Homo sapiens: one gene and its partner. The protein of the gene in region 1 purifies or fractionates together with the protein of each later gene. This does not show direct contact. Each region holds a gene or a part of one and is shown in the gene's direction. Other genes may lie near its edges.

Region 1 (3,500 bases):
GTCTGTTCCAGGCCTCTTCTTGGTCTGTTGATGGTGCTCTTCCCCCTTTGTCTCTTCACATCATCGTCCCTCTGTATATGCTCGTGTCCAGCTTTCTTGCTTTCTTTCTTTTTCTGTTTTTTGGAGACTGACTCTTGCTCTGTCACCCAGGCTGGAGTGCAGTGGCACAATCTCGGCTCACTGCAACCTCCGCCTCCTGTGTTCAAGCAATTCTCCTGCCTCAGCCTCCCGAGTAGCTGGGACTACAGGAGTGAGCCACCACGTCCAGCTAAACTTTGTATCTTTAGTAGAGATGGGGTTTCACCATGTTGGCCAGACTGGTCTCGAACTCCTGACCCAAAGTAATCTGCCTGCCTCGGCCTCCTAAAGTGCCGGAATTACAGGCGTGAGCTGTAATAACAGTCATATTGGATTAGAGCCCACCTTAATGACCTCATTTTAACTTGATTACCTCTGTAAATATCCTATCCTCAATATCTCCAAATAAGATCACATTCTGAGGTACTAGGACTTCATTATATGAATTTTAGGGAGGAACACCATTCAACTCATAACACCTACTTTCCCCCTGTGACACACCTGATATAGGATTGTGTAGATTCTCAAACACATCGGGTTATATTATCTCCTGCTGAAAACACTTGGCTGGTTCTATCTAAATAAAGCCTTCAAACCTTCCTAAGGCTGAGTTTCCTTCCACTTTGTTGGAGCAAGTCAAGAGAAAACCAGGAGAACATGCCTAGTCTCCTTTCTCTGAGCCTTCACGCTAAACCTCGGGCAAATAGTGAGAGCCAGTCCTGGTCCCTCACCTCCCTTCCCCACCTCCTCTTTTGGCATCTGTCTCTTAAAGGCATAACTTTTACAGTCTATCTCGAAGAGGTCCCTTATCTGGTGTCCTTAGAGCATGCTGCCTGTACCTGTATACTTATTCTTCCTTGATACTGTTCTCACTTGAAGGATTAGCAGAGTAGACAAGTTTAAGCTCTTGGGGGCAAGGACTCAGGTCTTCAACATGTAGAACAAGGCTTTATATATACTAGGCACCGGAATACCCATTTTAATGGTATTTTTTTTCCTGACTAGGTAAAAATTGGTGTGAAGAAGACATGGAGAATGGAGGATGTGAATACCTATGCCTGCCAGCACCACAGATTAATGATCACTCTCCAAAATATACCTGTTCCTGTCCCAGTGGGTACAATGTAGAGGAAAATGGCCGAGACTGTCAAAGTAAGGCATTTTGTGTTTCAACCACAAGTAGAACCTACAACAAGCAATATAATAAGACACAAGCTTGGATTTTTAAGAATTCTGTCTTAGCTAATTCTTTGAATAGATTTGAGAAGATATCTGCTATTGTATGCCGGGTTATCATGTCATTTCTTTAGAACTGACTTTAACCCATTTCAACATTAAATGAGTTTATAGGAGACTAAAGTGTCAACATACCTTACACTAATTTGTACCTAGTCCCTTAACAGCACTGAGCTAGCCAACTTGCAGGTAATTAAATGAGGCCTTAACATTTTTCCTCAAAAGGAGGAGGACAGAAATTATGCTTAAGGAAGGCCATGGTTACAGAAACCTCATTGCCTCAGTGGGTGACGCTACCCTAAAATAACACTTAGGCTGAATTTGCATTTAGTCTTCTGTTCTTAACTTTTGATTAAGTGGCAAATTAAAGTCATTTGTGTGATCAAGGAGCTTGTATGGTGAGGCTGATGAGGTTTTTATTAGCGTAATTCATGGTCAGGCAGGGATTAGCTCAGTTTACCAAGAAATTAGTTGCAAGACAGTCTGGTATGCCTGGTATACCAGAGCATCTTGAGAACATTTCTCGTAGTTTCCAGGAACATGGGATGTTGTTTAGAGGGATAAAATGTGGTTGTCCATCATTTTGAATTGTCAAATTCCAAACACCGACTGTCCTTCCCAAAGTTTCATGTATCTCTTTTTTGCATGAAGATTGCTATTTCAATGTTGACACATCAGCTGTACAACTTAGTTCAGCAGTGGTTTGTCTATTTTACCTGGTTTTAAAATAACCTTTTACATGGCTTGTCTGGACAAAACAGCTAGCCATGCTGGAACCCTGGCATTAACCAGGTTCTTGGTTTTTATAATTCAGGTACTGCAACTACTGTGACTTACAGTGAGACAAAAGATACGAACACAACAGAAATTTCAGCAACTAGTGGACTAGTTCCTGGAGGTATTGAGTTCAGTACTGCAAACTGTTAATCTCAACTAACAGCCACACTCTTTGTATCTACAGCTTAAATAATTAATGCAGCCTTTAACTACTATTTCTGCCCCAATTGGTAACCTATATTTAAACACCAAAGACTTAAAACTTGCATATCTTTTCCTGACTGATCTTAAAGGTTTCTAGTAGAGAACTGTCAGTGAAATGGCTACTACAGCATGTGACTCAAATACTTCTAAGCCAGAGTTGTTCCTGGTGTTCAATTGTTGTAGATACTGAACATCAATATTGGATGCAAAGGTTTTGGCTCCTTACCTGATGGGTAAATTTCTAAGTCTGAATACAGATCCTTCTAAACTGATTCCTTTTATTCCTCTGTAGGGATCAATGTGACCACAGCAGTATCAGAGGTCAGTGTTCCCCCAAAAGGGACTTCTGCCGCATGGGCCATTCTTCCTCTCTGTAAGTAGATTTCCTACAAGTCTGGGTTCAAGAACTTCTTAGATACCAGATGAAGATTTTTTGTTCATCTGGAGCTACCCCTTTCATGGGCCTTTATGCTGTCTAGCATTTATGACACTGAATTACGTTCGCTTTCTCCCCCACATAATACACTAAATTAAGGCCCATATCTTTCTCTTCAGTTGTACCTTTGGCACAGTAACTGGCAATGATAAGTGTTCAACGGTTAATGCTTTCTACTTCCGCACTGTTAACCTGGCTTATCCCCTTTTATAATAAGTCTCTTTAACTAGTGTACTGTTCTGTTCCCCCTTTGAAATGTGTGTAATGCTTCATACAGAGGAGATGCACAAATGCTTAAATGCTAAGAGTTACAGGACTTGTTGAGGATAAATTAAAAGCAGTTAAGAATTTTCAAACCTATGGAAAAGGACCTCTAAACGAGACACGCAAATTCTAAGGACTTTGCTATAAAAACCTTTGTCCTAAATGAAGAGACCCAAGCTTAGCTAACACGCCAGGACCACCTGAATAGCTCTCCAGAACCTTCTGCAATTTTAATTTGGTGAGCCTAAGGTGGGACCGAGGACCCTGCCCTTGCCTGGATGGATGTGGCTAGTCCAGCTCCAGTGCACAGAGCTACCTCTGGGCTGAACTTGTTTCAAGCTCCTGGCCCATGTGTATTCCAACTTCTAGTTATCCTAGCTCCATAAAACATGGCATTTTTACTAATGTCAATTATTATGGATTCCTGAACGTTATTACCTTTCTTGTATGTTCCAATACTAGACTTAGCTCACTTAGCTACCCTCTGATTTTTTTCAGTGCTCTT
Region 2 (3,500 bases), on another chromosome or scaffold:
TCTTTATCCCAGCCTCATCCCCACTTTCTAAAGCTAAAAACACAAGAAATAGTCCACCCTTTCCTCCCTCTTCCCTACGCTTCACAGCCAATTAACTGCCCAAGCCTAAAAACCCCTGACAATTCTTCCTGAGACATATTTTACCTCCATGTCCATCTCCTCTGCCACAGCCCTAGTTCCAGTCCCAATCATTTCTTCTGTAGCACGTTGCTACAGAACAACGAAGTCTGCTTTTTTGAGATGGAGTCTCACTCTGTCGCCCAGGCTGGAGTGCAGTGGCGTGATCAAGGTTCACCTCAACCTCCACCTCCTTGGTTCAAGCGATTCTCCTGCCTCAGCCTCCTGAGTAGCTGGGGTTACAGGCGCCCGCCACCACACCCGGCTAATTTTTCTATTTCTTTTTTTTTTTTTTTTTCCTGAGACGGAGTCTTGCTCTGTTGCCCAAGCTGGAGTGCAGTGACTACAATCTCGGCTCACTGCAAGCTCTGCCTCCCGGGTTCACGCCATTCTCCTGCCTCAGCCTCCTAAGTAGCTGGGACTACAGGCACCCGCCACCATGCTTGGCTAATTTTTTTGTATTTTTAGTAGAGACAGGGTTTCACCTTGTTAGCCAGGATGGTCTCAATCTCCTGACCTCGTGATCCGCCCACCTCAGCCTCCCAAATTGCTGGGATTACAGGTGTGAGCCACTGCGCCCGGCCTAATTTTTCTATTTCTAGTAGAGATGAGGTTTCACCATGTTGGCCAGGCTGGTCTCGAACTCCTGACCTCAGGTGATCCACCTGCCTTGACCTCTCAAAGTGCTGGGAATAGAGTCGTGAGCCACTGCGCCCAGCCACAGCAGCTTCTTTTTGACAGGGTCTCACTCTGTCACCAAGGCTGAAGTGCAGTGGCTCAAACACAGCTCACTGCAGCTTCGATCTCCGGGGCTCAATCAGTCCTCCCAAGTAGCTGGCTCTATAGGCACACGCCACTGCGCCCAGCTAATTTTTTTTTTTTTTTTTTGAGACAGAGTCTCGCTCTGTTGCCCAGGCCGGAGTGCAGTGGCGCAATCTCGGCTCACTGCAAGCTCCGCCTCCCGGGTTCACGCCATTCTCCTGCCGCAGCCTCCCCAGTTGCTGGGACTACAGGCGCCAGTCACCACGCCCGGCTAATTTTTTTGTATTTTTTTAGTAGATACCAGGTTTCACCGTGTTAGCCAGGATGGTCTCGATCTCCTGAACTCGTGATCCGCCTGCCTCGGCCTCCCAAAGTGCTAGGATTACAGGCATGAGCCACTGCTCCCGGCTATAGCGGCCTCTTAACTGAGCTTTCTGATGTTGGTCTTCCTCGACTTTAGCTCATTTTCCACCTTTCTCTGAAATAATAATAATTTTAATAAAATGATGACAACTGGCCAGGCATGGTGGCTTACACCTGCAATCCCAGCAGTTTGGGAGGCCAAGGTGGGCGGATTGCTTGACCCCAGGAATTTGAGATCAGCCTGGGCAACATAGTGAGACCCTGTCTTTACAAAAAATACAAAATGTAGCCTGGCATGTTGGTGCACACCTGTAGTCCCAGCTACCTGGGATGCTGAGGTGGGAGGATCTCCTGAGCCCAGGAGGTGGAGGTTGCAGAAAGCCGAGATCTCACCACTGTCCTTCAGCCTGGGCAACAGAGTGAGACCCTGACTCAAAAAAATGACAGCTTTGCCACTCCTATACTCACCAACCTCCTCTTGTATGGGTGCTGCTGACTCTGCTCTTTGGTAGTGTCCCAACAGCCCTTTACTCTAGCCTTGCCCACCTTTCCAGGTTCCTGACCTACCCCTCCTATCAGCCACCCCCACTTCAGGCATATTCACCTCTCAACCATTCTCTGAACACAGCTTACCTTTTCAGGCCCAACTCCTTTGTACCAGCCATTTCTGTCAATCTGCCTGATATGATCATCCCTCTGCCCATTGCTTCATGGTTTTGTACCCCCATCAACTCAGTCCAGGCATCAGCTGGTAAAGCCTTCCCTGAATCTCCATGGCCGGGCGCGGTGGCTCACGCCTGTAATCCCAGCACTTTGGGAGGCCGAGACGGGCGGATCATGAGGTCAGGAGATCAAGACCATCCTGGCTAACATGGTGAAGCCCCGTCTCTACTAAAAATACAAAAAAAATTAGCCGGGCGTGGTGGCGGGCGCCTGTAGTCCCAGCTACTCAGGAGGATGAGGCAGGAGAATGGCATGAACCTGGGAGGCGGAGGTTGCAGTGAGCCGAGGTCTCGCCACTACACTCCAGCCTGGGTGACAGAGCGAGAGACTCTGTCTCAAAAAATAAAATTAAAAAATAAATAAATAAATTAATTAATTAATTAATTAAAAAAGCCTCCCCTGAATCTCCCAGCTCTAGGTGCCCAGAGCACTTAGACAGGCTTCTCATTTCTCTGACAAGTCCCGCACAGGTTTATTTACTTCTCTGACTCTTCTACTAAGTGGTAAGCTCCTTGGGAGCAACAACTGAGTCCCATCAGCTCTGGATCCTCAAAACCTGGCATGCAGTGCCTATGAAAATGTTCTTTAAAATGTTCTTGGAGGGGCCAGGCACGGTGGCTCACGCTTGTAATCCCAGCACTTTGGGAGGCCGAGGTAGACAGATCACTTGAGGTCAGGAGTTCGAGACCAGCCTGGCCAACATGGTGAAATCCTGTCTTTACTAAGAATACAAAAATTAGCCGGGCATGGTGGCGGGCACCTGTAATCCCAGCTACTCTGGAGGCTGAGACAGGAGAATCACTTGAACCTGGGAGGCAGAGGTTGCAGTGAGCCGAGATCACGCCACTGCACTCCAGCCTGGGCGACAAGAGCGAGCCTCTGTCTCAAAAAAAAAGTTATTGGAGGACTAGAGGTTTTTTCAAGCTCAAAATGGAGCCTAGCATCACATTTAAAGATGGAGAAACAAAGATCAGGGTGCTGGGGAGGAAGCTGACTTGGCTGGAGAAGATACACTGGAGTGCACATTGGGGTGGGCAGAGCAGGTGTGGATATTCACCCTGTGAAATGCAGGGACAGGTTCAGGGACTTGCCCAAGGACATGTGGTGAGTAAGTGGCAAGGTTAAGATTCAAACCCAGTTCTCCTACCTCCCACTGTACAGTCTTCAGAACTTTTTAAAGGATAAGAACCAAATGAGAGGATGCACTTCTATAGTGCGCACTATGTGCTGGGCACCATTGCAGTTTACAAATTTTAACTTATTTAATCCTTCTGATAATGCTATGTGGTAGGTACAACCTTTCACCCACATTTTATAGGTGAGGAAACTGAAGTACAGAGATGTTGAGTAACTTGTCCAAGGTCACAGATAAGAAATAGCAACTGGGCATGGTGGCTTATGCCTGTAATCCCAGCATTTTGGGAGGCTGAGGCGGGAGGATCACTTGAGACCAGGAATTCAAGACCAGCCTGGGCTACACAGTGAGACTCTGTGTATAGAAAAAAGAAAAATTAGCCAGATGTGGTGGCACACAC

What was found. The genes of interacting proteins can lie anywhere in the genome.
Region 2: the proteins of VLDLR (region 1) and SYT11 purify together in Homo sapiens (co-immunoprecipitation; one large-scale study listed by IntAct). This does not show direct contact.

The regions. Positions count from the first base shown.
Region 1 is NC_000009.12:2,649,287-2,652,786, forward strand, and holds part of VLDLR (very low-density lipoprotein receptor isoform a precursor), read left to right. Parts: exon of another isoform or gene 1-1,083; coding exon 1,084-1,230; exon of another isoform or gene 1,231-2,128; coding exon 2,129-2,212; exon of another isoform or gene 2,213-2,587; coding exon 2,588-2,668; exon of another isoform or gene 2,669-3,493; coding exon 3,494-3,500. UniProt on the Homo sapiens protein: Multifunctional cell surface receptor that binds VLDL and transports it into cells by endocytosis and therefore plays an important role in energy metabolism.
Region 2 is NC_000001.11:155,876,567-155,880,066, forward strand, and holds part of SYT11 (synaptotagmin-11), read left to right. Parts: intron 1-3,500. UniProt on the Homo sapiens protein: Synaptotagmin family member involved in vesicular and membrane trafficking which does not bind Ca(2+). Inhibits clathrin-mediated and bulk endocytosis, functions to ensure precision in vesicle retrieval.